Linked DNA regions of Homo sapiens. The protein of the gene in region 6 purifies or fractionates together with the protein of the main gene of each other region. This does not show direct contact. Each region holds a gene or a part of one and is shown on either strand. Other genes may lie near its edges. The genes, in order: DCAF1, HNRNPUL1, CDK20, SPINDOC, MRPS31, CFAP20 and ACIN1.

Region 1 (4,700 bases), on a different chromosome or scaffold from region 6:
CTGACCTGGAAGGCTGCTCTTGCTTCTCTCACAAAAACCAGAGTCACACTTCAGGAACTTTACATCCACTCATGTATCCTCTACTCACCCACCAGTGTCTTCATCTCACTCAAAAAAAAAGCTAAAGGCCCTAACTACCACCTACAAGATGCTACCAGATACAGGCCCCTCACTGACCTCAGCTCTCCTCCCACCTCCCAAGCAAGGGCTTTTCCCTTGCCATTTCCTGTGCCTTACGCTGTTCCTCCAGGTATCTTCCTGAATCTCGCGTTTCCTTCAAGGCTCTGCTTAAACATTACCCCATCAGTGATGCTGTCTACCCTAGATAAAAGAGAAGTCCCCCACACCACCACCAAGCATTTCCTACCTCTTACCCTGCTTTCATTTTCTCTGAAACACTTACCACCTAAATTTACCGTATATTTGCTTCTTTATTGTCTCCCCAATGAGGGTCCATAAAGGCAGGGGTTTCATTTCTAATCTAAAACTTACTAAGAATTCAAAAATATCTGTGGTGCTAATGACATCTTTCTCAATGTCACATTTAGCCCTTATACATTTTTCCCATACAGCTCAGAACTATATTATCATACTTTTAGATTCTAACTAGAAGGAATATCACTGATTTCTAGTTGCCCAAAGGACTTAGGTCCTCACATTCTATCAAGAAGATTTCAGTATGAACAAATGGGTATGATCAGCTTGAAAACAGTGGTTCTTAAGTACTTACGTGGGCAATGTCTCCTTTTGTGCCGATGACCCGATCCTGGGAGTGCTTACTGAACTCAACATAGTGATCTTCTGTGAAGGAATGCCTATGGACAAACAACAGGAGCACTGAAGTGACAGATCTTCAGGACATATTCCTGCAACCAACTGAAACACAGGTGACCCCCAGCCTCTTGCACAATCACACTCACCTAAAGATCCTGGACTCCCAAAGAGGAAACAATCATACACTTAGATTACAAAGAAAATTCCTTCTATCACCTTAACCAAGCAGATACAAAATAATGAATGGGAATTCCTTAGAGAAATGACAAACAGGGCACATGTGCCTTTGAAACACGCAGCAAAGGGGCCAGGCATGGTAGCTCACTCCTACAATCCCAGCACTTTGAGAGGCTGAGGCAGGTGGATTGTCTAAGCTCAGGAGTTCGAGACCACCCTGGGCAACATGTCGAAACCCTATCTCTATCAAAAATGCAAAAAATTAGCCAGGCGTGGTGGCATATGCCTGTGGTCCCAGCTACTCAGCAGGCTGAGATGAGAGGATCACTTGAGCCTGGGAGGTGGAGGTTGCAGTAGGTCATGTTTGTGCCACCGCACTCCAACCTAAGTGACAGAATGAGACCCCGTCTAAAGAAGGAAAGAAAAGAAAAGGCCAGGTGCGGTGGCTCAGGCCTGTAATCCCAGCACTTTGGGAGGCCAAGGCCAGCGGATCACAAGGTCAGGAGATCAACACCATCCTGGCTAACACAGTGAAACGCTGTCTCTACTAAAAATATAAAATATTAGCCAGGTGTGGTGGCGGGCGCCTCTAGTCCCAGCTGCTCGGGAGGCTAAGGCAGGAGAACGGTGTGAACCCGGGAGGCGGAGCTTGCAGTAGGCTGAGATCGCGCCACTGCACTCCAGCCTGGGCGACAGAACGAGACTCTGTCTCACAAAAAATAAAAAAAAGAAAAAAAAAAGGAAAGGAAAGGAAAGGAGAGGAGAAGAGAGGAGAGAGAAAAGGAGGGGAGGTGAGGGGGGAGGGGAGGGGAGAGGAGAGGAGAGGAGACACAGCAAAGACTGCAATGTCCTATGTGAACATGGGAAAATACATAGATTCTGGGTCGGGGTCTGCTGCATAATGAGAATGTATATACCTCATAAAAGTATCTAGGAATTAAGAAAGATAAAGTCTTATTAAACATGAGTCTTAGATGAGGAAGAGAGAAGTTAACAATAACCGACAGCATCCTCTTTCCCCAAAAGGCTTCCAGTCTAAGAACCAAATGAAGGGGGGTATAAACTAGGTAAATAAAGCACAGACTAGGTTCCAAAAGCAGATACATACTTCATATCAAATACTGACTTCATTCCCCAAAGTGCAGACAAAGGCTGGCTCCAAGTAGCAGATGTCAGCAGCAAGGACCCATCCTAAAAGAAAAAGGCGCAAGGTGGGTAACCACGTATTTACATACATGCAGATGTCACTACCTGCCATTAGCATTTTTAAAGATTTGCATAAAAATGTTGTTGAATTAAAGAGACAATTTTATAATCCCCAGAAACCAAGAAATGGTCAGAAGCCACTAGGATTTGAATACATACACCTATAGTGTCCTATAAAATAACCAAACTTAAGAGAATATTAAATCCTACTGAACTAGCCACAAAAATAGAATAGATAAAAGGGAGGGGGGAAAATGAGAAGATGTCAAAGATGGTTCCTTTCTTCCTACTAACTTTGCCATATTCCTCAGTCTCCATCTGAAATATGAATTAACCTCAACTAGACTTTCCAGTTGAGGACTCATTTAAAAGAGAGAGCTCAATAAAGGGTAAGCCTCCTTTACTCTAGTTCACCAATTCATCTTGGAAGAATGACTGAGAGCATCCTAGGAAGGAACCCTTACCCTGGAAGGTTCAAGATGTGTGATGGCTGAGTTGTGACAGTTATAGCTGGCCTCCTCCTGTCCACTAAACACATTATAGAGCTTCAGCTGCCCTGTGCAGGTGCCAAGCATCAGGAACCGCTCCCGTGCTGAGAATGCACAGCAGGTGAAGCCACTCTCATCTTCATTGGCTTCCCGGAACACTGAAATAGGACGGAATCTAAGCAAAAAAAAGAGAGAATCACAGGCAAAGAATGTGCAGGGACTCAGAAAAAGCAAACTGCTAGGATAGAAGAAAAAGCACAGAACATTAATGTTTCAAATGGCTTCTTCCAAAATCACAGTGACCTTCAGTGCTTTTTATTTTAAATAAGAAAAAGATTTCCACTTACAAATTTAAATAACAAAAATTCCCATGTTTAGGCCAGACACAGTGGCTCATGCCTATAATCCTAGCACTTTGGGAGGCCGAAGGGGGGGTATCAATTGAGGTCAGGAATTCAAGACCAGCCTGGCCAACATGGTAAAACCCCATCTCTACTAAAAATGCAAAAATTAGCTAGATATGGTGGTGCCTGCCTGTAATCCCAGCTACTCAGGAGGCTGAGGCAGGAGAATCACTCGAACCTAGGAGGCAGAGGTTGCAGTGAGCCAAGATAGCACCACTGTACTCCAGCCTGGGCGATAGAGAGACTCCGTCTCCAAAAAAAAAAAAAATTCCCATGTTTAAAACCTGTGATCCCGTAACCTTTATGTAAGATTTGTCAAGAATCAGAACAGGAAGCAACTTGCACCAGCACAAGTTTGGGAGCCTCCTTATGGACAGTAGTAATGAGGGGGTGTGGGTTCTAGAAAACATACTAGTTGAGATGAGAACACAAACGATTATATCAATATACTGCCAACAATCACACAAGGAACCCATGGTTGACAAAAGGTGGTACAATTACATTGTTCAAGTATTACACAAAGTAACAATCAGTGGTATTTCAGGACAACTATGCTGATACTGCCCAGTTTGATTTAAATAAAAGAATCATTCCAATTCCCAGGGAGTAAGAAGGGGCCTCTTCTTACCTGCTAAAGATAAGGTGCCTATCAAAGCATCCGCCATCCACCCCTCCATACTTTGGAAATGATGCCCTGCGGTTTAGCCTTGACGTAAAGTTTATTGGCGCTTGCCGCCTCTGTTTTGGCTCAGGACATTGGTGAGGAGTAAAGAGGGAGAAAGGTGGGCAGGTGGCAACTGGATTCTTGCAGCGAGCATGTTGTTCTCTAAGATACTCTGTGATTATACTGTCCAGCGTAGGTGGGGAAGGAAGATGTCTGTCCAGCTGTTTTTTTATGGCTGGGCTTTGGCTGTAGGCACCATGGTCCGACTTCTGCCGCAACACTCTGATTTTCCTGCCATTGCAGGGTGATGGCCTCTCTCTGATAAAACTGATTCTACCAATCAAAGGGGAGTTGCCTGCATAAGATGGGCCGGGCAGAGCTAGCGGACCCTGGGGGGGCCGTGGCTGAGGATGAGCAGTAGGGGCAGAAGGCGCAGAGGCACCCACAGCAGCATGGCTGCCCAGACGAGTTGCAATGCCATTAGCGATACGAGGGGTTCGGGGTAGAGAGACAGGAGAAGCAGCAGCAGTGACTGGGGTAAAGGCAGAAGAATGGGAGGCAGCAGTCATGGGCAGGTCAGCCTCTTTTGTCAGCACGGTTGCTGTTTCTCCAAGCCCTTTAGAAATAAGATGGTTTCGTATCAACAAAAGCAGCTCTTTCTCAGGGAAGGAGATCCTTGACTGGGCAACAACATCTGCTTTCTGCAGTCGTGCTAGGGAAACATCAGTGCCAATGAGAAGTGGTTTTCCTGACACCCGTTCAATGAGTTCAGCAGCATACTTGCAGAACTTGACATGGTCACTGCGCTTGTCCTGCAGCACAGGCTCCTTCATCAGCTGCTGGATCTGGCAGCTGCTGAAAAGGGGCAGTTTACTGATGATCTGCCGGACAGTGCTACTGCGAGACAGGCCCACTAGGGCTTTGCAGGCCAGGGCCCGGATTTGGTCTGCATCTGTGATGGGCATCTTAATGGACAGTAAGGACAGG
Region 2 (4,700 bases), on a different chromosome or scaffold from region 6:
GGCCGAGATTGCGCCATTGCACTCCAGCCTGGGCAACAAGAGTGAAATTCCGTCTCAACAAAAAGAGGGGGGATCTTAATTACTAACTTTAGCAATTCAATAAGTAGTTGTTACAGAATAAATGAATGTGGTCCCTGCATGGCTCTTCAGCTGTTCCTGAATTACTTCCCCCTCATCTTTTATGCCTCAGCCAATCTGACCTTGTGTTCTGTCACTGCTAGGCTTATATACAAGCAACTGAGAAACCTCAGAAACTTGCTTCTAGGTAGGTCATCTTACTGAATTATGATAGAGTGTCCTTGTCTCATTCCCCACTGGTCGCTAAGCTCTGTCGGTCCCAGATTATGCAGACATGTGTATCAGAAAGAGTACGAACTCAGGGAACATGTTGAACAAGCTGAACTCAGTTCGAAAAGGCCCTGCGGTGGCTTTCCTTCATCTGTTATATTCATAGACTGCCCTTTCTGGGTTTCTTTTGTTTGTTTTTGTAGAGATGGGGTCTCTTTCTGTTACCCAGGCTGTACTTGAACTCCTGGCCTCAAGCATCCTCCTGCCTTGGCTGCTCAAAGTGATGGGATTATAGGCGTGAGCCACTGCACCTGTCTCCTCATCAGTTTTCAGGACAGGACTGGACCACCTTTTCCTTCGTCTTCATCTCAGTCTAGGCACAAGACTCAAATACTTGGAGCTTCTTAAAATTACCTGCTTTAGGACAGGTGCAGTGGCTCAAGCCTATAATTCCAACAGTTTGGCAGGCCAAGGTGGGAAGATCACTTGAGTCCAGGATTTCAAGACCAGCCTGGGCAACATAACAAGACCCTGTCTCTACAAAAAAATTTAAAAATTAGCCAGGTGTGGAACATGCCTGTAGTCCCAGCTACTCAGGAGGCTGAGGTGGGAGGATTGCTTGAACCTGGAAGTTTGAGGTTGCGGTGAGCCCTAGCTGTGCCACTGCACTCAGCCTGGGGGACAGGGTGAGACCCTGTCTCAAAAAAAAAAAAAACAAAAAAAAAAAACTCTTGCTTACTTGCTTCATATCCACCAACTTTGGGGTCTTAGGCAAGGAGGACTTTGGGCTGGACATTCTCTGAGATGTTCACTGATGCTGCCCAGCTTACCTGTATGTTGGGGAAGGATGCACTTCAATCTGGAAAGCTGTCCACATTCTACTCCCTGCATCTACTGTCCTCACATTTGACTCCCAGTGCCTATGGCAAGAGTTGGCAATCATATTCCTTTGGCTTTTTCTCCTAGGATTTTGAATGTGGAAATGACGTGGAACTGTCTTTTACCAAGAATGGAAAGTGGATGGGCATTGCTTTCCGAATCCAGAAGGAAGCCTTGGGGGGTCAGGCCCTCTATCCTCATGTCCTGGTGAAGAATTGCGCAGTGGAGTTCAACTTCGGACAGAGAGCAGAGCCCTACTGTTCTGTCCTCCCGGGGTTTACCTTCATCCAGCACCTTCCCCTTAGTGAGCGTATCCGGGGCACCGTTGGACCAAAGAGCAAGGCAGAATGTGAGGTGAGTGGGGCCAGAATGTATTGGTGGCCACCTTGCTGCCAAGACAGAGGAGACACACACACACACACACACACAGACTTGCTGCGAGAGTAGCCTTGGGGCAAGTGGCCACTTTGTCCCAGCTCCTCAGGGTTGGACTCAGAGCTGAAAAGCTGCTCTGAGTGTGAGGTGAGGGGTGTTGGTGTGACCTAAGTTGAAGTCGGAGAGGCTACCTAAATCTCAGAAAGATTGCATCTTCTTCTTAAGTGAGGCCAGAATAGGGGAAAAGGAGGCTTTTCTTACAGCAGAAAAGGACACTAGGCGCTTCTTGGGGAGTGCACTGTGCCACCAAGTGTTCTTTTTTTTTCTTTAGAGACAGGGTCTCGCTCTGTCACCCAGGCTGGAGTGCAGTGGTGCGATCACGGCTTACTGCAGCCTTGACCTTCCAGGCTCAAGTGATCCTCCCACCTCAGCTTCTCGAGTAGCTGGGACCACAGGTACATGCCACCATGCCAGGCTAACTTTTTTAGCCACTGAGCCTGGCCCACCGAGTGTTCTTGAAGGAGGTTGAGTAAGTTCCACCTCTCACCCAGAGCTATCAAAAGATAAATGGCCTTTGGGAAGATTTGATTCCAAGAGCTATACTAGTGTCTTTTTTCTTAAAACAATATTTTTCTTGTATGTGTAAGTTATTTATGCTTGTTCTAGAAAATTAAGAAGTAAAAAATTTAAATTTTCATAATGCCATCATCTACAAATAAGTTTACTTGCAGAGTTTTGGAGTTCATCTGTTCTTTTTAATGTCTAAGTGCCTGTTTTATGCTCACAAACATTTATCATTGAGATTCTATGGTATAAGCATTATGATACCCTGCTCTTTTCACTTCACATTATTTTGTGAGCTTTATCCCATCACATAAAAACCTCTCTTTGAACATCATTTTTTCTTTTTTAAAAATCCTTCAAGGGAATGAACGTCATTCTTAATGGCCTTACAAACTCGCCACTCCCCCCTAGTCGGGCATTTAAGATGCATCTGTGTTTACCAAATTCTAAATGTACTGATTAGATACAATTCATGTCCTTGTGTGTGCAGCTCTGTTCCTATTTCATACTTAAAGAAAGTTGTACCACTTCTACCCACTCCATGGGGCCAGTCCCAGTACACAGCCTTCCCTGGGCTATTGCAGGGGGCGGGGAATGGGTCACATAATCCTGTAAATGGGCTGGGTTTGGTGGCAAATGCCTATAATTCCAGCACTTTGGGAGGCCAAGAAGGGAGGAGGATCCCTTGAGTATAGGAGTTTGAGACCAGTCTGGGCAACATAAGGAGACTCTCATTTCTACCAAAAAAAGAGAGAAAAAGATTAGCTGGGTGTGATGGTTTGTATCTGTAGTTCTAGCTACTCTGGAGGCTGATGTAGAAGGATTGCTTGAGCCTGGGAGTTCAAGGCTGCAGTGAGCTGTAATTGGGCCATTACACGCCAGCCTGGGCAATAGAGTGAGACCCTGTCTCAAAAAAACAAAATACTATAAATGCTAATGATGACAGCACTTGGTTTTTTGTTTTTGTTTTCCCCCGAAAGTCCTGGGATTATAGGCGTGAGCTACCGTGCCTGGCCAGCACTTGACTTAATGCTCACCCTGTCCCAGGCACTGTGCTCAGAGTCTGACAAGCCTGATCTTTTTGAATCCCGATACCAGTACTGTGAGGTAGATGGTATTACTGCTTCCGCTTTGTAGAGGCAGCCACAGCTCAGAGGTCCAGAGTCACACTCACAGTCACCACCGAGCCAAGTGGTGCCATACCACCATGCCGCAACACCTTCCCTGTCTTGTTCTTGTAGATTCTGATGATGGTGGGCCTGCCTGCTGCTGGCAAGACCACATGGGCCATCAAACATGCAGCCTCCAACCCTTCCAAGAAGTACAACATCCTGGGTACCAATGCCATCATGGATAAGATGCGGGTAAGGCCAGCCACTGGACTCTCCTTACTCACCTCCAACCTACTGAGTGCTGCCCTGCAACTAAAATCACTCACCCCTCACCAATTCCTGCCCGCAGGTGATGGGCCTACGCCGGCAGCGGAACTATGCTGGCCGCTGGGATGTCCTGATCCAGCAGGCCACCCAGTGCCTCAACCGCCTCATCCAGATTGCTGCCCGCAAGAAACGCAACTATATCCTAGATCAGGTACTTAATGATGACCATTGTGTCCTCAGGAGAAGGGAGGGGACCCCTTGCATGCCTGAGAATCTCCCTCTGGTCCCTTTCTTTTTTCCCCCGTAATGATGATGGACTGCTGTGCTAGTCGGGGGGGTCAGACCTTGTCATACATGATGACATGGTACTACACACAGCTGAGCCTGGACTGGGATCATGATCTAGGCCTACTTACTCAGACTCATCAGCAGCCCCAAAGAACATCAGGTAAGAACTGTTTAGCAAAATGGAAGGAGTATGGATTTCCAAGCCTGAGAGACTGGAGCTTGAATGCCAGCTCGGCTACTCCCTAGCTCTGTGCCTTTGGGCAGCTGACTTTATTCTCTGAATCTCCATCTCTTGGTTTGTAAAACAGGGATCTCAATACCATCTGCACCCCTAACGCAGGACCTGGCACTTAGTAGCTGGTGATTATTGTTAAATACTCTACAGAATAGGTAGAGTAGCTTTCATGCCAACAGCAGTGCTGTAAGGTAAATGCTATTATTGCTTCCGTCATTTTCTCTTCACAAATACGTATGACTGGCAGGTACATACCTAAGTCATATTTTCTACCTACACTTCAGTTAATGGTGGAGTTCTTAACATCAGGGACCTTGGAACCTTTGTATTTGAACATAAATATTGTATGCAGCTGCAGGTGTATCCTTTTTATGAAAAAGAAGGGAAAAAAAAACAGTTTTTTGTCCCTATCTTTCAGCATTCTCAAAAGGATGAGTGACCCAAAAATCATTACAGATTCCTGTCTCAGAGTAATGAGTTCCACATGGTTATTGCCTATGCAACGTCATTGCCTATTGACATTTGTCCTGAAGGCTTTCACAAGTAACAAAGGGTGTCTCCTTATTTTCTATGTTTGGGGATCTGTGAATGAGCCTCTGTTCCCTTCAGCCTTGCATTTGTGCTTTCTTAAGAACCTGTGAGTGAGCAAATATGTAAACTAAGTAACACCCTGCCCTTGTAGCCTTCCTGAA
Region 3 (3,996 bases), on a different chromosome or scaffold from region 6:
CCCAGATCCCCACAAACTGGGTCCTCATCTAGCCCCACCCCACCTAAATAAAGAAGTATCCTTTTCTCCACTCACAGAATCACACTATCCTCTTCTAGTTCTGTTGATTTTTTTTCTTTTTTTGATACAGGGTCTCACTCTGTCACCCAGGCTGGAGTGTAGAAGTGCGATTTTGTCTCCCTGTAGTCTCAACCTCCTGGGCTCAGGTGATCCTCCCACCTCAGCTTCCCAAGTAGCTAGGACTACAGGCACGTGTCACCATGCCTGGCTAGTTTTTTGTATTTTTTGTAGAGACAAGGTTTCACCATGTTGCCCAGGCTGGTCTCAAACACCTGGGTTCAAGCCATCCGCCCACCTTGGCCTCTCAAAGTACTGGGATTACGGGCATGAGACGTCATGCCCAGCCCCCTTGTATTTTGGTTCCTGTACTTACAGAATCTGAATATATCCCTTTTATTCATTTATTTGTTAAACTGTTTGTCCTTTGTGCTGTGAGTTCATTAAGAGTCCTGTCTCTCAGCTCACTCTCTGTGTAGCCTGGCTCCTCTGACAGTACTGGCCTCAGTGTTTGTGATGTGTCTGTAGCTGTCCCAGCACTGGGAAAGGTGGGATTCCTGGTGTCCTTTCCTTGGTGCTGGGATTCGGTGGTTCTAGAGGAAACAGGAGGAGACCTGTCCATCTCATGTGTGACCATCCAGATGATTTTCAGGCGGGTAGGCTGGGTGGGCGGACCAGATGGTGCCACTAAATGACCTTTTTTAGACCTTTTAGTGTTCATGGAGAATTAGAGTGGGGGCACACCTTATCTCAGGAGAGCAGAGCAAATCATGAGCATCGAGCTCTCTGATTCTTAGCTCAGGTCCACGTCACCTTCTTTGCTTACTGTCTTTTTGGATACAGGGTCCTCTGTCAGGGCATGGGCTGGGGTCTCAGGGTCACAGAGAGGGTCTGGTGACTTGAGTCTGGGGGCTAACAAGATGTCCTGCCCACAGGTGGTACAACTGAAGGCTGTGTTCCCACACGGTGGAGGCTTTGTGCTGGCCTTTGAGTTCATGCTGTCGGATCTGGCCGAGGTGGTGCGCCATGCCCAGAGGCCACTAGCCCAGGCACAGGTCAAGAGCTACCTGCAGATGCTGCTCAAGGGTGTCGCCTTCTGCCATGCCAACAACATTGTACATCGGGTCAGTCTCAGCATAGGCCGGGCATGGGGTCTGGGGAGCTGACTTGGCTTGGGGATGGGGCTAGCCCTTGTAAAAGGTGTGATAAGAAGTTGGGACAGAGCTGGTCAAGGCCTCCAGGTAAGTGGCCAGGGCATGGCCCTGGAGGAGGTGGGGACCGGGGCTGACCTGAGTGGTTAGACTGCCAAGCCCGCTTGTCCCAAGGTCCTATGGGGGATTTGGAGGGACTGATGCTTCTTTTGGTACTCCCAGGACCTGAAACCTGCCAACCTGCTCATCAGCGCCTCAGGCCAGCTCAAGATAGCGGACTTTGGCCTGGCTCGAGTCTTTTCCCCAGACGGCAGCCGCCTCTACACACACCAGGTGGCCACCAGGTAGGGAGGGCCAGATCCCTTCCAGTCTTCTCCATGGGGAAGAGATGCTTCTGGGCCTTTTCTCCAGACATTGCTTGTGGGGCTGGGGTCACCTCCCCAGGCATCCTTTTCTCAGCCCAGTGCCTGCCAGCCCTCTTCCTCGCAGGTGGTACCGAGCCCCCGAGCTCCTGTATGGTGCCCGCCAGTATGACCAGGGCGTCGATCTGTGGTGAGACCCCTGTGGGTGGTCAAAGGGTAACATGGCTCATGGATTTCTGCTAGGCTCTGAGGTCTCTGAGCTGTTTGGTGGTCTTTTCCCTGGTGGGAGTTTAGGCTTCCTTAAGGGTGTCTTCCCTGGTTGGGGTATTCTGAGCACTTTGGGGTTGGGGTTCCTCACTATGATGTTTTCGAGCTGGGTAGGGGCCAGGTGGGATGAGAATGGTGGTCCCAGGTGGGAAGCTTTCTGGGCTAGATGGGGAGGTGGTCTGAGCCGATATGTGCTGGAGTTAGATCCTAGGATATGGCATCTCTGAGCTGGTCAGAGGCCTGTGTCCTTGGACATGAAAGCTCTGAGCTTGTTTTGCAGCAAGAAGATAGTTGGCAGTGCCCATGGGTCTGAGATTTGGGGCAGGTTTGCAGGTCTGCCCCAGAAGTGTCCTAGAGCAGGAGTCTCCGAGAAGTCTTGGAACAGCTGGGGCTTTGCTCTGGGTTCTAGGGTTGAGGGCTTTGAGGGTTCAGGGACTGGGCCTCTGGACGTGAGGCTCCAGGGCTGGCTTGTGGGGCCTTGCCCTGGAGTGCAGTGTTAGAGCTGCTCTGTGGGTGGGTCTGTGGTCCATGGTGGGAGATCTCTGACCTGCTTGGGGCTCTGTGTCCACAGGTCTGTGGGCTGCATCATGGGGGAGCTGTTGAATGGGTCCCCCCTTTTCCCGGGCAAGAACGATATTGAACAGCTTTGCTATGTGCTTCGCATCTTGGGCACCCCAAACCCTCAAGTCTGGCCGGTTTGTAGGGGCCCTTGGTGAGGTGGGTGTGGGGCAGGTTTACTCCACTCCCAACAGCAAGTAACCACTCCCTCCCCTGAACCTTCTCTCTCCTGGCCCCAACCCCCCTTGATGGACAGGGACCACTGTCCTGGCCCAACTCAGGGCTTCCTCCTTCCTGCTGTCATTTGGGTTGGGGTAGATCCTGTCCTTTGTCCCTTTTCACCCCAGTACACACATGTGCAGTGTCTCAGCAAGCTGTGCACAGAGTCGTCATCTGAGAGGGCAAGGGGATGGATGAAGGAATACAGGGGTGGGTGAGTGAATGAATGATGGGTCAGGGAGACACATGGATGGGAGAGCACCCCCCATGTGAGTGTGTGTTAGGGGCTGAGAGTTGACAGCAGAGAGCATGGCAAGGGTCGGGAACTACTCTCATTGTACCCTGTTCCTTCTCCCTGGCCCAGGAGCTCACTGAGCTGCCGGACTACAACAAGATCTCCTTTAAGGAGCAGGTGCCCATGCCCCTGGAGGAGGTGCTGCCTGACGTCTCTCCCCAGGCATTGGATCTGCTGGGTCAATTCCTTCTCTACCCTCCTCACCAGCGCATCGCAGCTTCCAAGGTAGGGGGAGAGGCTGTAGTCTCTGCTCCTTCAGCTCCCCTCCCCATCACCCTGGTACTCTGTACTTGGTAGCCATGTGACCCCATCACATCAGCGACCCTCAGAACCTGTGATTGGCATGGACCAGCACCAGACATCTGGAACCCAGGGGACAGGGGCCTTGGAGCAGGTGTGCCTCTCATGAGTAGACCCCACTGGACATCCCCAGACTTCCCCTGAGGGTGGCCCATACGAGGGGCATGCCCAACTCTCAGGAGAGCGCGTGTCCGGGAGTGCAGGTTTCTGGGCTGCCCCTGACCCTGTGGCAGATACAGTAAGAGAGTCACTGGGGACTCATTCCTTTATTCCATTAGCAAGTATTTTCTGCACATCTGGCACATGCAGGGATTGTCCTGGGCCCTGCACAGATGGTAAACAATCAGTCCTACCTCCGCGGGGCACTCCTGGTGGTGAGGTAGCTCCAGGTCCAAAAGGTCACAAGAGGTCATGTTCTCCAGCTGTGGGAGCCCCAGGAGAGAGGCAAGGCCGACTTTGGGGTCAAGCAAAGCTTCCTGGTGGAGGGCAGGTTTAAGCATGAGATGTTTGAGGAGGTGTTCGCTGAAGAGAGAAATGGTGGGCAGAGGCCTGGAAGAGAGGACCCAGGAAGGCTGGTTATGGCTGGTAGGCCTGGGAGGACGATGACCACAGGAGCATGGGCTGACAGGTGTCAGGGTGTCTCTCAGGGGTCCCTGTCCCCTCCCTGCACTCAGCACCAGCCGCGTGTGTTTACATACGCCCTCTTGGTCTCCACTGTCAGCAGCTCCTGTGGGCTCTGTGTCCACAGTGTACCCAAGCCGTGTGACCCTTATCTCTTGGGTTGCCT
Region 4 (3,580 bases), on a different chromosome or scaffold from region 6:
GGTGAGTGGGCAAAGTCTGAGAGGAAGGGGCTTCAGCAGGCTGCTTGAGTGATCTGAGGGGGCGGAGGCAATTGTAGGGTGTTGTCAGCAGTGGCAGCCTTCGTGGAGGTTGGAGATGCCTGGGAAACCATAGAGGATACCTCACTGGTACACAAGTGTTCCTGGAGCCTGTGCCCGAGGGAGGCACCCTGGGAGATGGCATGAGTGAGACAGCCTTTGTCCCCCAAAATTCTGTGTCCAGGTATATAGGCTGGAGGCAGTAAATCTTTAAAAACCAGGGGCCCCCGTGGCGGTTCTTTGCGGAGCAGAGGCTCTGGACCTGTGGTTTCAGACGATCTCACGAACCCAAAGCTTGGACAGATTTCTCAGAAACCTGTGAGGCTTCGACCAAAATGTCTCTACTTTCTGTGTTGTTATGTACGTATTGAAGTTCTCTGAAGACTTTATTTAAATAAAGATCCTGCCACTTTAAAAAAAATTAGAGGTGTAAAAATCGTGGATTTAACAGTTGGAAAAGGCCACCTGTGGTCAGGTTAGCTGAGCTGATGAATGTGAATGTGAGGTAGTCCAGGAAGACTCTAGAACCTTCTGAGGACCTTGCCAGAGGAGGATGGGGAGAGTGTGCAGGCCAGGAGAGGAGGTGGGCCACAATGACCCACTGACAAGTAATGGAAAGAGGAGCCTCTCTGTCTTGCTGGTGTTTTTCTTTTTTTTATTTTGGAGATGGAGTCTCGCTCTGTCGCCCAGGCTGGAGTGCAGTGGCGTGATCTTGGCTCACTGCAAGCTCCGCCTCCTCCCAGGTTCACACCATTCTTCTGCCTCAGCCTCCCAAGGAGCTGGGACTACAGGCGCCCACCACCACACCTGGCTAATTTTTTGTATTTTTAGTAGAGACGGGGTTTCACTGTGTTAGCCAGGATGGTCTCGATCTCCTGACCTCGTGATCTGCCCGCCTCAACCTCCCAAAATGCTGGGATTACAGGCGTGAGCCACTGCACCTGGCCTGTTTTTCTTTTTCTTTTTTTTTTTTGGAGATGGAGTTTTGCTCTTGTCGCCCAGGCTGGAGTGCAGTGGTGCAATCTTGGCTCACTGCAACCTCCGCCTCCCAAGTTCAAGCGATTCTCCTTCCTCAGCCTCCTGAGTAGCTGGGATTACAGGCGTGCGCCACCACGCCTGGCTAATTTTTTTGTATTATTAGTAGAGATGGCGTCTCACCCTATTGGCCAGGCTAGTCTCAAACTCCTGACCTCGGGTGATCCGCCCACCTCGGCCTCCCAAAGTGCTGGGATTACAGGCATGAGCCACTGCACCTGGCCGGTCCTTCTCTTTATGATCTCGTGGTTACGGTGGGCTGATCACTCACTCCTTCCTGGAGACAACTTTCTTCCCTTGGCTTTTCAGGCAGCTGCTCGCCTGGTGTTCCTCTTCCCTCACTAACTGTTCCTTCTCAGTTTCTCTTGCCGCTCACTCTCAGCTCCCAGAGTTGGAACACGTCGTATCATTGTCTGCCTTTCCCTTTCTAGAATGTAAGGGCCTGCAGGTTAGGGTGTTTGCGTCCTGCACTATAATATCTGCGGTAACCAGAACAGTGCCTGGCACAGCGTAGGCCCGGCTTATGTGTTTGGTGAATGAGTACGTGCTTAAGTATCCGCAGCCGTGGGTCAGTGTCGGTACTCGCTCCCTGGGAGATCTCATCCAGGTTCACAGCTTTCAATGACATGTGTGTGCTCATAATGCCCACCTTGGCTGCTCCTTCCTGGTTCCATCCTCTTTTCCAGTTGCCCAGGTGGCGTCTCTACATGGGTGTCTAAAAGATCTCAAACATTGTGCCACCGCACTCCAGCCTGGCGACAGAGCGAGACTCCATCTCAAAAAAAAAAAAAAATCTCAAACTCGCCACATTGAAACTGAACCCCCAGTCTCACCAATGCACCCTACCCCTAGACTCCACAATCTTCCCTTTCCCAGTGAACAGGCAGCCCCAGGCTTCAGTTTGCTGTGACCACACCCACACAGTCATCCTCTTCTTTCTCCAGCCCAGCATCTGTCCAGCAGCCGATCCTCCAAAACAAGTTCAGAGCTCACACTGCTGTCACCACATCCACTGCTGCTACCCTAGTCAGGGCCGGCTCTCGCCTGGTTCCTGTAACAAACCTAAGCCAGGTCTCCTGGCTGCTGAGCTTTGCCCGCTATGCTCTGCTCTCCTGTAGCAGCCAGAGTGTCCCTGCTGAGAACACAAGTCAGATCCAGTCACTCCTCTACTCATGGCCTTTCTGTGCTGCTCCTGTTGCACTCCAGATAAAAGCCAGAGCCTTCATGGTGACTAGTGAGCTCCCCACAGGCTCCTGACCTCTCCCCCCACATCCCGCTCCCCGCACAGGCACTGGCCTTGCTGTTCCTGGGGAAGCCAGCGTGCTCCACCAGGGCATCCACATTTGCTCCTCCCTCTGCTCAAAATGCTGTTCCCTCCCTGTCTGCCTCACTGGCTCCTCACTCCCTCTGTGTCTGTGGTCCCCTGTCAGCTTTCTGCTATCCTATTATCCTATCTCCTTTCCCTGGTGTACTTTGCTACTTTGCATCTGTCCATATATAACATACTGCATTTTTTATTTGTTTATCCTATTTATTAGCTCTGATAAATAGAATGTGAAGTCCCAGAAGGCCACTTAGGGAGCTCCATTCACCGCTGTACCCCTAGCAATCCAAACGGCATTGGGCATATAGTACTCAATAAATTATTGTCAAATTAATGAACAAATGGGGTTCAGTGTTCCTTCAGGGAGCCTATAGTTTATCAGGGAGACAAACTGTGTTCTGGGAACACAGAATAGCATTTGGTAGGTGATAAAAATGGGGTGGCAGCCACTAAGTCATTTTAAATTCCAGCACATCGCACAGCAAAATTGTACCTGTTTTCTGTGCCACATTTTAAATAATCGTGTCTCTAAAAACAGGGTAGAAAAGGAACACACACAAATAAATCCTTCCCAATATAGACAGTGCAGTAGTTGAAATCACCATCTTCTGTTTTTGCCTTTCAATGTAATGTAACTTTTTTTTTTTTTGAGACAGTCTCACTCTATTGCCCAGGCTGGAGTGCAGTGGCGTGATCTTGGCTCACTGCAACCTCCACCTCCCAGGTTCACGCGACTCTCCCGCCTCAGCCTCCTGAGTAGCTGGGATTAGAGGGGTGCACCACTATGCCTGCCTAATTTCTTTGTATTTTAGTAAAGGGGTTCTCCATGTTAGCCAGGCTGGTCTCAAACTCCTGACCTCAAGTGATCTGCTCACCCTGGCCTCCCAAAGTGCTGGGATTACAGGCATGAGCCATCATGCCCAGCCCTAATGTAACGTAACCTTTGCACACGTCCCTGTTGCGTGCTCGTTTTTTATGGCTGCACGCAGCCACGGCAGTCCTCAGTCCTCTTTCCTCTGCCTCGAGGCCCAGCTTTGCCCATTATGAGTGCCTTCTCCATACTGGTAAGGTGGACACCTGGTCTTGGTGATGTAGGTGTTGACACTCAGGAGATAAAGAGCCTGGTGGAAGTTCGCCAGGGGTCTTTTCTGTCCCCCACGTAGT
Region 5 (4,700 bases), on a different chromosome or scaffold from region 6:
GCTTGAGCCTAGGAATTCAAGCCTGGGCAACATGGCGAAACCCTGTCTCTACAAAAAATTAGTCCCAGTTAGGAGGCTGAGGTGGGAGGATCACCTGAGCTCAGGGAGGTCAAGGCTGCAGTGAGCTGAGATCACACCACTGCACTCCAGCCTGTCTGACAGAGTGAGGCCCTGTCTCAAAAAAAAAAAATTTTTATGCATATTAAAGACTTCCAGGGGATTTAGCGGGGTGATGCCTGTTGGAGGTCAGTGCCCTCCTAGTTGGGGGGTGGGGGCTAAGCTTAAAGTTTGAGAAGCAGTGCTGTAGCACGTCAGCTTCATAAAGGCAGGGACCATGAAATTCTTATTTACTAATATATTGTCAGTACCTAGTATAGTGCCCACCACAGAGTAGATATTCACTATATTTAGCAAATAATTTTTTAATATACCCTCTTACTGAAACTAACACATTCAGAGTTTTGAAAATTCTTCAGTAGTCAAATACCAAAACAAATTTTTAACCCCACAGAATAAAATTGGATATTTGGATTACTTAGAATTAGGAAATCTTTTTGCATGAGTCTAATATAGATGTAATCATTTGTGTTGTTCTTTTTCATAAATGTATCTAGTGAAGAAAGCACAAATGACATTTCTAGCCATTGATTATTCTCTTTTCTGTTCCATTCTAGCTTTCCTTACAAATGGTTATGGGTTAAGTAGCATGTAGCTCGATGACAATGTTGATCAGATTAGATAACACCCACTCAGAAAGTTTTTTTGAAATAATCTTTTTTATTGATAGAAATTTATTTTTGTATTGTTTAATGATAACTTTTAAAGAGGTATTGTGTTAAGAGCAAGGACTTGCAGTCAGTCACATTTGGGTTTGAGAATAATAAATTGTCATTTATTAACCATGTCAGTGTTTTTCTACCCAACCCTGGGGTAAATGGAGGGAGGGAACAGACTTGGGAGCACCAGCACCCCCAGACCTCCCCTGGCCACCCCAAGGACCAAGTGATCAATATCTCAGCACACCTCTACTTATTTGTGGCACACAGTGTGTTTTAGTTCTTAGTGAGCTGTGAGCTACATGACTTTGGGACTTCTCTGATTTTCAGTTTCCTTATCTGCAAAATAGAGACCTTAGGGAGTTAATGTGGGTATGAGAAATGTAAATAAAGTATATTTCACAAGATGAGACATGTAGTATATGCTAATAAATGGTAAGTTGCTGCTGTTATGGTTGTTAACAATAATTATAAAAAGAGACCAGCCTGGCCAACATGGGGAAACCCCATCTTTGCTAAAAATACAAAATTAGCTGGGCATGGTGGCACATGCCTACAATCCTAGCTGCTCGGGAGGTTGAGGCAGGAGAATTGCTTGAACCCTGGAGGCGGGGTTTGCGGTGAGCCAAGATCGCGCCATTGCACTCCAGCCTGGGCAACAAGAGCGAAACTCCGTCTCAAAAAAAAAAAAGCAACGGAAAGGGCTTGAATTGAAAAAAAATCTTAGATACATAGTTTTTTACTTTATTGTAAGTAAGTTTTTTACTTTATTGTAGACTGCATTGTATTTTTCATTTTTTTCTTTAATGCATCTTTCCAGGACAAAAAATAACATCCAAAGATATTTTGGCACTAACAGTGTGATCTGTAGCAAGAAAGATAAGCAGTCTGTTCGAACTGAGGAGACTTCCAAGGAGACTTCAGAGAGCCAAGACAGTGAAAAGGAAAATACGAAAAAAGACTTGTTAGGCATTATTAAGGGCATGAAAGTTGAATTAAGCACAGTAAATGTACGAACAACAAAGCCCCCCAAAAGAAGACCACTTAAAAGTTTGGAAGCTACACTTGGCAGGCTTCGAAGAGCTACAGAATATGCTCCAAAGAAGAGGTAAATTTAATTGTAATTCAGATGTTGTTTGAAACTCCAGTAAGCTTTTTGTTTTGGTAAAAAATATTTTTAATACAAGTACTTGGGAAATGTTGAATTAATGAAGAATAAATATCAGCTTGTAAACACAGGGACTCTAATAATTACTCGAGGCTGGGCATGGTGGCTCACACCTGTAATCCCAGCACTTTGGGAGGACGAGGCGGGCGGATCACTTGAGGTCAGGAGTTTGGAGACCAGCCTGGCCAACATGGTGAAACCCCGTCTCTACTAAAACTACAAAAGTCAGCTGGGCATGGTGGTGCGTGCTTGTAATCCCAGCAACTTGGGAGGCTGAGGCAGGAGGACTGTTTGAACCCAGGAGGCAGAGGTTGCAGTGAGCCAAGAATTGTGCCACTGCACTCCAGCCTGGGGGATCAAGCGAGACTCTGTCTCAAACAACAACAACAACAAAATAATAATTACTTGAGAAATGCTGTTATTGTATTATATTTAAATAACAAGAGGATATCTGTACACAATCCAGAGAAAGGAAAGGAGAAATGATCTCATTGAGAATTTCACACACTTACATATTTATCAGTGTTATTAACTGCCATGTAATTGCCTCTTTAAGCTGTTAATTAACAATATCATTTACATCTTGATTTGAAGGTAGCTTAATGTCTGTAAAGGACTTGCTTATTTAAAATTTTCCATTTTAAAGATTTCTGGAATAAAGTTTTAGCATGTTGATTACAATTGCTTTATATGACTTCCCTTGATCAATACCTATCAGTGCTTTCAGCTTTCTTGGTAGTTTCCTCAGAGTATTAAAATTATTTGTGTTTGTCAAAAGAGTATTATATTTAATTCTAAATGCAATCAGTGATACTTGGCATTGTGTGGTAGGTTAAATGGCAGTATTTTTTTTAGTGCTATGTAATGATGTATTTCAATGATGTCATTAATTCAAGTAGTAAGCTATGTGGCTTTAGGATACTCATCACTGACTTCTGTTACCAGAACAAACAGATTTTAATAGTCTTCTGTTTCCCAAACTGATTTAACATTTTAATGGAACTTCTTGGTTTCTACGTTATATCAAAAATACCTCTAGAAAGTATGATTGGGTAGTAGAGTAAGCTAATTCAGACTATCAGTACCCATAATAGGTACTTCCTCCTCCTCCTCCTGCTTTTAGAAACAAAATGGTTATATATAAGTATATGGAAATAAATAATACAAACATATATAAATACTTTTCAAGAATGGCATTTTTAAAGCTCCTAGACCTGTTTATGATCCATCATGCTCTTTATTATAATTATAATTGAATTAACGATTACAGAAATGGTAAAGTGAGTTGAATGCTTTGGAAAGAGTCAGTAAAGGTCATTTAAAATTTTTCTTTCCAATTAGGTATGAGTGAGGCAAACATACATGTGTGGGAAGATCATACACTTAGATTGCTTTGTAAGCTTTCTTACATTCTTGCTCCACTTTTCCACTTAAACTGAAATTGAAAATACTGGAGGATGGGTGTGATGTATATAAAAGATGTGTCTTAGAACCTCTATTAGTGGTCCTATGTTCAAAGAAGAGGCTTTGGTCCCACATCAAAAGACTGGTGAATGAGGTACATTTGTTTTGAGTTTTAAAAAGGTGTCTTTTAATGATTTTTTCCTCCCCTCCCTCTTTTTCAAGGACTCCAAGGTGCACGGGATTAGGTTAGTCATGATCTTTGCTTCATGAGACACTGTCATCATTGCTTCATACATAGACTGCTTTTCTTTGTTTGTATTAAATATTGAACCTTCATTGATATGGTTACCATGGCTACACTACCTCCCAAACTTAGTGGCATAAAACATTCATTCATTATGCTCACAGATTCTGTGGGTTAGCGATTTGACTAGAACACAGTGGGGGAAGGCCAATCTGTGCTCTGTGATGTCTGGGGCCTCAGTTGGAAGACTTAGAAGTCTGAGGCTGGAATTGTCTGAAGTTTGCTCACTCATAGGTCTGGCAGTTGCTGCTGGCTGTCAGCTGAGACCTTATTAGCAGAAACACCTACATGTGGCTTTCTTTGTGGGCTGGGCTTTATCCCTGCATGGTGGCTGGGTTCCAGGGCGGGTGTCTCAAGAGAAAGTGAGCCAAGAGAAAGTTGTATTTTCTTTTTAATGACCTAGCCTTGTAATAAGATTGGACATTACCGTGTTTACCCTTGTTCCACATTGATTTTCCTGGGATATTTGTTTTTATCACAACCACTCCTGAGAAACAATCTTGACAAAGATATAATGTCATTGATAGGAATGGAGCAATATACAGTTGGTCCTCTGTATGTGCAGGTTCTGTATCCACAGATTCAACCAATTTCTGATTGAAAATATTAAAAAAAAATACAATATAACTACTTACATAATTAGGTATTATAAGTAATCTAGAGATAATTTAAAAGTATTCGGAGGATGTGCATTACTTATATGCAGGTACTCTGCCATTTTATGTAAGGGGCTTGTGCATCCATCCTGGTGGGGGCCAGAGCTGTTCCTGGAAACAATGCCTGTATCCCACGGCCCCACCTCCCCCCAACCCCTGCAGATATGAAGGGACTGCTGTAATGTTACTGTGAACTGCCTAATTTACATCATTATTGACATGGTTGTATTTTCCTGTGCTGCCCCAGAGTACCTTAGGACACAGTTTGGGAGCCAGGGTCCCAGGTGGAGAGCTTGTGTCTTCTCTACTCATCTTTAGCTAAGCTAGATTCCGGGCTGGGATCTGGAATCGTCTGAGGGCCCTTTTCCAGTAGTTGATACTGGCTGTTGGCT
Region 6 (4,345 bases):
GTTTGACCCGGGTGGTGCTCTGGTAGTTACTTGCCCGAAAGCGACGACGCACATTCTTGTCATCTAGTACCTGTGAAATACAGAGAAGAAGCATCACACTAGCTCTGTCTTGGAAGAAGCACACAACCTTGTCCAGACAAGGACCTGAATTCCCACAGCTTGCTTTCCCAAGGCTGAGACTTAGAGGAAAATAAACAGACCAGACACAGGTCATACACTGCATGCAGATGGCCCGGAAGTAGCAAGTTTATCTTGTTTGTTGCCAAGACAACACCAGCTGCTTATGACATATAACACAGTCAGCAGGCTCTCAGACCATAGAGTATATAAATGTTCTTCCTTTTGAAAAATCAGAAATACTAAAACAGAACAGCCACCCACTATTAAATAATCACTCCCCAAATGGATACCACGCTAACTCTGACACTTTGAAATTACTAGGTTTTCTAGGTGCTGTTTCTTTAAAAACCTGATTAAATTTTATTACTAATATCAAATTTACATAACAAGGACTGCACTGGGCTTATACTAGAAGCAGAAAAGAATACATGCAAAAGGATAAAGATACTTTGTAGGGTCACTTTTTCCCATCAGTTCAAAGGCTATCACTTTGGTATAGCCAAGAGTGGACACATTCATGTACACATACTTACCTGCACTTCGAAGGTAAAATACTTCTTCAGGTTTTTGATAATCATGACAAGGAAAGGAAGTTTAATTCCCAGCGTCTTCTTGGGGTCTGCAGGGCATGTGATATATGTGGTGCTGTAGAGAGAGGAAATACTAATAAACACACTCCTGGACTCTCTTCCTTTGTGGTATGCACAACAATAACACACGGTCCAAGAGGATACACTGGAAAGCAGATCTAAAAGATTCAGACACGCCACCCAGTGAATCCCTCAGCCCTAAGTCAGCGGCTGCTTTAACAAACGCTGGACCCAGAAACAAAAGCTTAACACAGGACTAGACAGCAGCAATAAAATATCTGAAAAACAAAGCCAGACAGTGGATCTTAGAAGCTCCTCCAGTGAGAGAAGACCTCAATTCTGGTCCAGGGGAGCCATCGAATGACAGAAAACCAAAACTGAGACCTCTATGGCACTGAAAACCACACTGTCCACCCACTGGATGAGCTGTACAACACTGCCCACTCCCCACCCCAACACACACTTTGGTTAATAATATAGCTAATACTGACATCGTGCTTACTATGTGCTAAGCAAGGCTTTACGTGTTTTATATATATTCATTTATTTACTCCTCGCAATAACCCTATAAGGAAAATGTACTATTATTCTGCCCATTGTACAGATGAGTATGCTAAGGTCTGGGGGATTCAGTAACTTGCCCATGGTAAGCTCTAAGTGGCAGAGATAGACTCACATCCGGCACTCTGACTCCGCAGTCTGTGCTATTAACCTCTATGACGTACTGCCTCCCTAGTATATGATGTCTCTGGGAGAACAGAGGTGGCAACCTACCTTACATTTGTCCCTTCAATCTCTAGCACCAGGGACTGGATGTCATTATCAGTGATTCTTTTGATGTGGCCATTCCGTACCTACAAGAAAGAAAATTCGATTAGTACTGAAATATCTGACAAGGCTGAATAGGACTATTTAAAGAAAACCACGGTAGCCCAAGAGGCGTACAAAGAAATTTGTGACACAGCACACTGAAGCTTATATGTAAGTAAGCCAAGCTATTACCTCTAGACAGGGTCACACCAACCACCAAGGGAATCCCAGGTAACTTGGCAATCCCTAAATCTGGGGAAACTTCTCCCCAAATACATCAACTCAATTTAGATTCAGCTAATATCTACTGAATGCCTACTATGCACCAGGAATATCACACACATCCCCTTCTCACTTAAGCCTCACACAATAAAAACAACAAGGCAGGTGATACTGTTTTCATTTTACAAATGTGGACATTGGCACCCCGGAACTGCAAATGCCAAACCCTAAGTAGGAGACTAAGGATTCAGCAGCCTTTCCACTGCCTCATACTGCCTCGTAGATTTCTTTCTTTCTCTTTCTTTTTTCTTTTTTCTGAGACGGAGTCTCGCCCTGTCGCCCAGGCTGGAGTGCAATGGCGCGATCTTGGCTCACCGCAACCTCTGCCTTCCAGGTTCAAGCGATTCTCTTGCCTCAGCCTCCTGAGTAGCTGGGATTATAAGCGTGCAGCACCATGCCCAGCCGATTTTTTTTTTTGTATCTTTAGTAGAGACGGGGTTTCACCATGTTGGCCAGGCTGGTCTCGAACTCCTGACCTTGTGATCCACCTGCCTTGGCCTCCCAAAGTGCTGGAATTACAGGCATGGGCCACTGCGCCCGTCCTGCCTTGTATATTTCTTTGGCCAGAAAAGCCAAAGAAAAGCTGAGTGTTACTGAGGAGGGCAGCAACAAAAAGTGAAAGCATTCCTCCCCTGGAGTTATCCTGCTTCATGCTTCCCTATCTGCTTTTGCCTAATTTTCTACTTTTTAAAGCAGGAATTCAATTCCCATCTGTGCCACACACAGATGCCTTCTTTAGCATTTTCAGCCCACACTGACCTCTCTTTTCTCTGATTTGTTTTTCTGGCTCATGTTGTCTAGACGACATAATTTAGCACCTCATCCTACATTGTTTTGTATTGTTTGCTGCATATGTAGGAGGTAGATGATGGGGAGGAATCAATATTCAATACAGATTCCTCCTCTCAAAATATTTAGGAAAGAACAATTATCTTCAAGCATTAAACTTTTAAGCAACTAATATGGACAGAACAGAGATATGCAAAGGCACTTTCAAAACAGGGCTGGGGCCAGGCACAGTGGCTCATGCCTGTAATCCCAGCACTTTGGGAGGCCAAGGCAGGAGGATAGCTTGAGCTCAGGAGTTCAAGATCAGCTTGGGCAACATAGTAAGACATTGTTTCTACAAAAAATTAGCCAGGTGTGGTGGCGTGCACCTGTAGTGTGCCTATAGTCCCAACTACTTGGGAGGCTAAGGTGGGAGGATCACTTGAGCTCAGGAGGTCCAGGCTGCAGTGAGCTGTGTTTGTGCCACTGCACTCCAGCCTAGAGGAGTAGGTGACAGAGCAAGACCCTATCTCAAAAAAAACAAAACAAAAAACGAAAAAAAAAAAACAAAACCAAAAAAACATGGCTGGGGTCAGGCATGGTGGTTCACGCTTGTAATCCCAGCACTTTGGGAGGCCGAGGCGAGAGAACTGCTTGAGCTCAGGAGTTCAAGACCAGTCTGGACAACATGATGAAACCCCATCTCTACAAAAAATTAGCCAGGTGTAGTGGCACGTGCCTATCGTCTCAGTTCCTCAGGAGGCTGAGGTGGGAGGATAACCTGAGCCTGGGAGGTCGAGGCTGCAGTGAGCCGTGATTGTGCCACTGTACTCAAGCCTGGGCGACAGAGTGAGATCCTGTCTCAAAAATGAACAAACAAACAAAAAAACAAGGCTGGACTATTAGGGCTGAATGGAATAACATATGAAAAAGATCAACTAGGTTTAGAACAGGAGACATCAGAAAGACAAACATACGGTCTTTCTTTGTGGAAAGGGCTGTGTTAGGCTGCCATAATCAATGACTCAATCACACTGACTAAAGCTCCTCTTGTTCACTCATCAGCCTGCTGATTACGATTTGGCTATTAGACTTGCATATGGGGATAAATCAGTGTTGGGTCTGGTAGTTTTATTTTTCAACATAAATTATTAATAATATGTTTCTGTTTTTAGACATTAGTCTCTGTGAGCTCTGTCACTGTGAGTCTGATCCACTCATGGTCTGCCTGGTGTTCTAAAGGTGACATCTGATGTCACTGCCCACCTTTTCCACAACTGCAACCAAGTCTTGTCTCCTTAAAAAAGAATAAGCTCAAGCAAGAGCCAAGACCAGTTATGAAGCATCATTTCTATCTTCGACAATGCTTAGCACAGTGCTAGCCATAAACTAAGCGTTCAAATATTTGCTGACTTCTGGAATCTGTCACCCTAAGAGCTGGCACATATGAATAGGTTCAAGGAGGGTTTTAAAAATTCCTGGATAACACATCCCCCGTGGACTATTATAGGAAGCCAGAGATCTGGGGCATATCACAAAGCCCACAGGGCCGCCAGCATGAAGAATGCTTCCACAAATGGGTGCCCATTGTCAGAGACAGAATACTGGGCTAGACGGGACCCCAATCCCTGCCAATGGAGCATTTCTTAGGCTCTCAAGACACAAAACGTCACATTGAAACGATTCTCAAACAAAGCTGGCAATGTTCAATGCCCTCCTGCTTTGAATTCTGGGCCCCTTTCCAAGGAGATTAAGAGCACAAAGGCCTGGGTCTG
Region 7 (4,700 bases), on a different chromosome or scaffold from region 6:
TCTTTATATTTTGCATTGCTGACTAATTTCTTGTTTCATGTCTGAGGCGCCTCCAGTTTCTGCTTTTATTGCAAAACAGTGATGACCAGAACTTTCTGAACAGCCCTGTTCATTTCTCCAGATCTCTTTGATGACTTACTACAAGTTCTTCCAGAGGAGTAATCATCCAGAAATCCTATCACTGCAGTTTTACAGTATCAAAAATAACATTATAATTCAATAAATAGCATATAATTCACAGTAGGTAGATAAAGAGGCTGTTTTGCTTGTACATACTAATTTTAAAATTGCAACTCAGTTATTTGACTTTGTTGTTGTTGTTCTTGTTGTTGTTGTTTTTTGAGATGGAGTCTCGCTCTGTCGCCCAGGCTGGAGTGCAGTGGCGCGATCTCTGCTCACTGCAAGCTCTGCCTTCCAGGTTCACGCCGTTCTCCTGCCTCAGCATCCCAAGTAGCTGGGACTGCAGGCACCCGCCCCCACACCCGACTAATTTTTTTTTTTGTATTTTTAGTAGAGACGGGGTTTCACCATGGTCTTAATCTCCTGACCTCGTGATCGCCCACCTCGGCCTCCCAAAGTGCTGGGATTACAGGCGTGAGCCACTGCGCCCAGCGTTGACTTTAACACATTTATCTCTGACCAACCTTGCACTTGCCTTTTTTTTTTGGTGTGTGTGAGATAAATCAGCTTCTTTCACTGATACTTGTGAAGGAACTTTGCCTAACATTTATGAAAACTTTTTATTTTGGTTTTACTTATTTTATAACTTAGCCTATTTCAGATCACTGAATTATGAAATGAGTATTTCATTTCACTGCACTACTGTCTTACAGATGTCTTCAAATGTTTGCTAAAGAGTCTGGCCTTTCACTATATATTCTAATCATATATCCTGTATGAACAACCATAACACAAATCTTTCTTCACTTACCCAGATACGAAATGGTATATACTCAGAGGTCCTTTTAATCAAATGATCATGAAGTAAAGTTTTACAAAATATGTGTAGTCTTCTAATTGATTTCATTAGTTTCATTTTGGGTTTTTTTTTTTTTTTTTCTTTTTTGAGATGGAGTCTCGCTCTGTCGCCCAGGCTGGAGTGCAATAGCGCCATCTCGGCTCACTACAACCTCTGCCTCCCAGGTTCAAGCGATTCTTCTGCCTCAGCCCCCTGAGTAGCTGGGACTGCAGGCGTACGCCACCACGCCCAGCTAAAATTTTTTTTGTATTTTTAGTAGAGATGAGGTTTTACCTAATTGGCCAGGCTAATCTCAAACTCCCGACCTCGTGATCTGCCCGCCTCGGCCTCTCAATGTGCTGAGATTACAGGCATGAGCCACCGTGCCCAGCCTCATTTTGATTTTTTAATTATTATTACAGAAGCATTCGCCTAGTTCATTTTAGATTGTAAGGATATAGAAATAGAGAAGGCCGGGCATGGTGGCTTACACCTGTAATCCCAGCACTTTGGGAGGCCAAGGAGGGGGAGGATGACAAGGTCAGGAGTTCGAGACCAGCCTGGCCAACGTGGCAAAACCCCGTCTCTACTAAAAATACAAAAGTTAACCAGGCGTGGTGGCGGGCGCCTGTAGTCCCAGTTACTCAGGAGGCTGAGGCAGGAGAATCACTTGAACCCAGGAGGCGGAGGTTGCAGTGAACCGAAATCGTGCCATTGCACTCCAGCCTGGGCAACGAGCAAGACTCTCTCTCAGAAAAAAAAAAAAATAAGAGAGAAGATCTTGGGTTAGAGCTGCATACCATCTGCTTTATTTGCACTATTACTATACAACATGGTTTTGTGTACAGAACCTTTTGTACTGTATTAACATTGAGTCCAATCTAGCTGATCAAGTATCTGGAATATAATTATCTTCCTGCTATTTTCTAAACTGGTTCTCATTGATGTTAGTATTGCTACTGTACATAGTTGATCTTTTTTGTTTTTTTGAGACGGAGTCTCGCTCTGTCGCCCAGGCTGGAGTGCAGTGGCGCGATCTCGACTCACTGCAAGCTCCGCCTCCCAGGTTCACGCCATTCTGCCTCAGCCTCCTGAGTAGCTGGGACTACAGGCACCTGCCGCCACGCCTGGCTAATTTTTTGTATTTTTAGTAGAGACAGGGTTTCACCATGTTAGCCAGGATGGTCTCGATCTCCTGACGTCGTGATCCGCCTGCCTCGACCTCTCAAAGTGCTAGGATTACAGGCGTGAGCCACCGTGCCCGGCCGCCTAGTTGATCTTAATTCTGGTAGGAAATTTGGAAATCATCTAGTGCAGCCCCTCCTTTTTCTCAATCATGACATTTGAGACTCGGGCACAGTGGTTTATACCTTAATCTCAGCACTTTGGGAGGACCGGGGTGGGAGGATTACTTGAGCCCTGGAGGCTGAGGCTGCAGTGAGCCATGATCATGCCACTGCACTCCAGCCTGGGTGACAGAGTAAAACACTGTCTAAAAAGAAAGATATTGAGACCCAAATTACTTAAGTGATTTACCCAGTTACCTTCCTTCATGGAATTTGAGTGAAACTTTCTTTCCGTTTTACATGGATTTATTGTTCAGGATAACCTAGATTGGTGGTTTCCAAGCTTTTTAATAGAACTTTTTTTTTCCTTAAAAAAAAAAAAAATCTCACCTAGTCCGGGTGCGGTGACTCACGCCTGTAATTCCAGCACTTTGGGAGGCCAAGGCGGGGGGATTGCTTGAGCCCAGGAGTTCGAACCAGCCTAGGCAACATGATGAAACCCCGCCTCTGTAAAAAATACCGAAATTAGCCAGGTATGGTGGCGTGCGCCTGCAGTCCCAGCTGCCCGGTAGGCTGAAGCAGGAGAATCGCTTGAACCTGGGAGGCGGAGGTTGTGGTGAGCCTAGATCATGCCATTGCACTCCATCCTGGGCAACAAGAGCAAAACTCTGTCTCAAAAAAAAAAAAAGAAAAACATGTGAGCTCATGCCTGTAATCCCAGCACTTTGGGAGGCCAAGGCGGGCAGATCACTTGAGGTCAGGAGTTTGAGACCAGCCTGTCCAACAGGATGAAACCCCATATCTACTAAAAATACAAAAATTAGCCAGGCATGGTGGTGGGCACCTGTAATCCCAGCTACTCAGGAGGCTGAGGCATGAGACTGGTTTGAAGCCAGGGGGCAGAGGTCGCAGTGAGGCGAGATTGCACCACTGCATCCAGCCTGGGTGACAGAGTGAGACTCCATCTCAGAAAAAAAAAAAAAAAAAAAAAAAATATTGAGCTCTAATACATAAAACCTAATAGACAGGACCCAATTCTGAAACCCCATCCAGTTGGCTTGAAGTAATTTCAGGAACTTTAGGGCGCTGAAAAACATTCCTCTAAGTATTTATTTCTTGAGTTTGTTATTGTGCAAATTCATATATTTCATCATAATATTTTGGTTGAAATTAGAAAGTAGTAGTAATAGGCAATCCAAAAAAATGGATACAGAACATAATGAAGTCTTAAACTTTATTCAGAGTAAGAACACTTTGTAGAAATAAGTACACTTCATATTTGTACATCCCTGCTAGACAGTTTGAAGCCCCTGGAAATTATTTTACATTTATTTGAGTTATTTATAACATGTGAATTGGCTTCGAGGTGTTGAAAATATTCTAGACTTGCACACCAAGAATTACCAATAAGACCCTGACCTAGTTAGGGCTTTTTGTAGTCTTTTCTTTAGTGTAGAAGTCAAAGAAACCGATACAGATATGTCTTGATAGGCTCATATGCTATAATTGGTTGGATATTAGAAAGCCTGATTTTTAAAAAGCCATGAATGAGTCTTCACTTCATGAATCTGACTTGATTCTTTTTCATTCAATAGGAAAAAGCTCCTCAATTTCTGAAGAGAAAGGTGACTCTGATGATGAGAAACCAAGGAAAGGAGAAAGACGATCATCTAGGGTCAGACAGGTAACTCAGATACCTCCTAAAGCATTACCTCTTCAGTAATGCTTTGGATATCTTCTCTTCTTCAGACTTGTTTTGAGTTTGTATGTCTCTACATTTAGGGGTTTTGTTTTTCTTTTTTGGGACAGAGTCTGGCTCTGTCGCCTAGGCTGGAGTGCAGTGGCACAATCACAGCTTACTACAGCCTCGACCTCCTAGGCTTAAGCAGTCCTTCCACCTCAGCCTCCCAAAGGATTGGGATTACAGGCATGAGCCACTGCCTGGCCTCTAGATTTCTTTGTGGTTATCTTCCTTCTCCTCTTTGTCATCTTTTTGTTGTTCGTTTTGTCTTTTTATTTAGATCTGCTCTGCCTTTTAGATTTCTAAGTGAATATTTTTTAAAAGTTTAAATTTGAAAATTAGCAGGCTGCTCTGTATTCTTAAAGCACATTATTAGACAAGATATGACATAATTAACCATTCAATCAAAGCTTTAAAGTTATATAACACTAAGTGGGCAGAATACAAAAATGTTATGTGTAGTGTAATTATGACTGTACAAAGGAAATGATTAGAGGAAAGAACAAAAAGAAATATACCAAAATGATAAAAAGATAATCGTATTAATTGATAGTAGGTTAGTTCCTTTCAGCCCCCTATCCACCCTTTTACTTTCCAGATGTTCTGCTAATATTTTACTGAAAAAAAAAAAAAGGGGGTGCTTGAAGCTAAAATTTAAACTACATACAAGTAGCTTCATTGTGATATTTCTTTTGGTCACTTTGTTTTGATTCCC

Evidence for each region.
Region 1: the proteins of CFAP20 (region 6) and DCAF1 purify together in Homo sapiens (affinity purification with mass spectrometry; one large-scale study listed by BioGRID and IntAct). This does not show direct contact.
Region 2: the proteins of CFAP20 (region 6) and HNRNPUL1 purify together in Homo sapiens (affinity purification with mass spectrometry; one large-scale study listed by BioGRID and IntAct). This does not show direct contact.
Region 3: the proteins of CFAP20 (region 6) and CDK20 purify together in Homo sapiens (affinity purification with mass spectrometry; 3 studies listed by BioGRID and IntAct, with this or other methods). This does not show direct contact.
Region 4: the proteins of CFAP20 (region 6) and SPINDOC purify together in Homo sapiens (affinity purification with mass spectrometry; one large-scale study listed by BioGRID and IntAct). This does not show direct contact.
Region 5: the proteins of CFAP20 (region 6) and MRPS31 purify together in Homo sapiens (affinity purification with mass spectrometry; one large-scale study listed by BioGRID and IntAct). This does not show direct contact.
Region 7: the proteins of CFAP20 (region 6) and ACIN1 purify together in Homo sapiens (affinity purification with mass spectrometry, with the first as the bait; one large-scale study listed by BioGRID). This does not show direct contact.

The regions. Positions count from the first base shown.
Region 1 is NC_000003.12:51,416,057-51,420,756, forward strand, and holds part of DCAF1 (DDB1- and CUL4-associated factor 1), read right to left. Parts: coding exon 3,678-4,700; intron 2,821-3,677; coding exon 2,622-2,820; intron 2,143-2,621; coding exon 2,060-2,142; intron 816-2,059; coding exon 731-815; intron 1-730. UniProt on the Homo sapiens protein: Acts both as a substrate recognition component of E3 ubiquitin-protein ligase complexes and as an atypical serine/threonine-protein kinase, playing key roles in various processes such as cell cycle, telomerase regulation and histone modification.
Region 2 is NC_000019.10:41,290,991-41,295,690, forward strand, and holds part of HNRNPUL1 (heterogeneous nuclear ribonucleoprotein U-like protein 1), read left to right. Parts: intron 1-1,254; coding exon 1,255-1,521; intron 1,522-3,347; coding exon 3,348-3,470; intron 3,471-3,567; coding exon 3,568-3,696; intron 3,697-4,700.
Region 3 is NC_000009.12:87,968,332-87,972,327, reverse strand, and holds part of CDK20 (cyclin-dependent kinase 20), read left to right. Parts: intron 1-992; coding exon 993-1,181; intron 1,182-1,430; coding exon 1,431-1,552; intron 1,553-1,682; coding exon of another isoform or gene 1,683-1,697; coding exon 1,698-1,760; intron 1,761-2,408; coding exon 2,409-2,532; coding exon of another isoform or gene 2,533-2,553; exon of another isoform or gene 2,554-2,554; intron 2,555-2,978; coding exon 2,979-3,134; intron 3,135-3,460; exon of another isoform or gene 3,461-3,758; intron 3,759-3,996. UniProt on the Homo sapiens protein: Required for high-level Shh responses in the developing neural tube.
Region 4 is NC_000011.10:63,822,894-63,826,473, forward strand, and holds part of SPINDOC (spindlin interactor and repressor of chromatin-binding protein), read left to right. Parts: intron 1-241; coding exon of another isoform or gene 242-263; exon of another isoform or gene 264-2,754; intron 2,755-3,580. UniProt on the Homo sapiens protein: Chromatin protein that stabilizes SPIN1 and enhances its association with histone H3 trimethylated at both 'Lys-4' and 'Lys-9' (H3K4me3K9me3).
Region 5 is NC_000013.11:40,763,930-40,768,629, reverse strand, and holds part of MRPS31 (small ribosomal subunit protein mS31), read left to right. Parts: intron 1-1,596; coding exon 1,597-1,884; intron 1,885-4,700.
Region 6 is NC_000016.10:58,115,388-58,119,732, forward strand, and holds part of CFAP20 (cilia- and flagella-associated protein 20), read right to left. Parts: intron 1,565-4,345; coding exon 1,485-1,564; intron 766-1,484; coding exon 654-765; intron 71-653; coding exon 1-70. UniProt on the Homo sapiens protein: Cilium- and flagellum-specific protein that plays a role in axonemal structure organization and motility. Microtubule inner protein (MIP) part of the dynein-decorated doublet microtubules (DMTs) in cilia axoneme, which is required for motile cilia beating.
Region 7 is NC_000014.9:23,080,976-23,085,675, reverse strand, and holds part of ACIN1 (apoptotic chromatin condensation inducer in the nucleus), read left to right. Parts: intron 1-3,461; exon of another isoform or gene 3,462-3,839; coding exon 3,840-3,928; exon of another isoform or gene 3,929-4,700.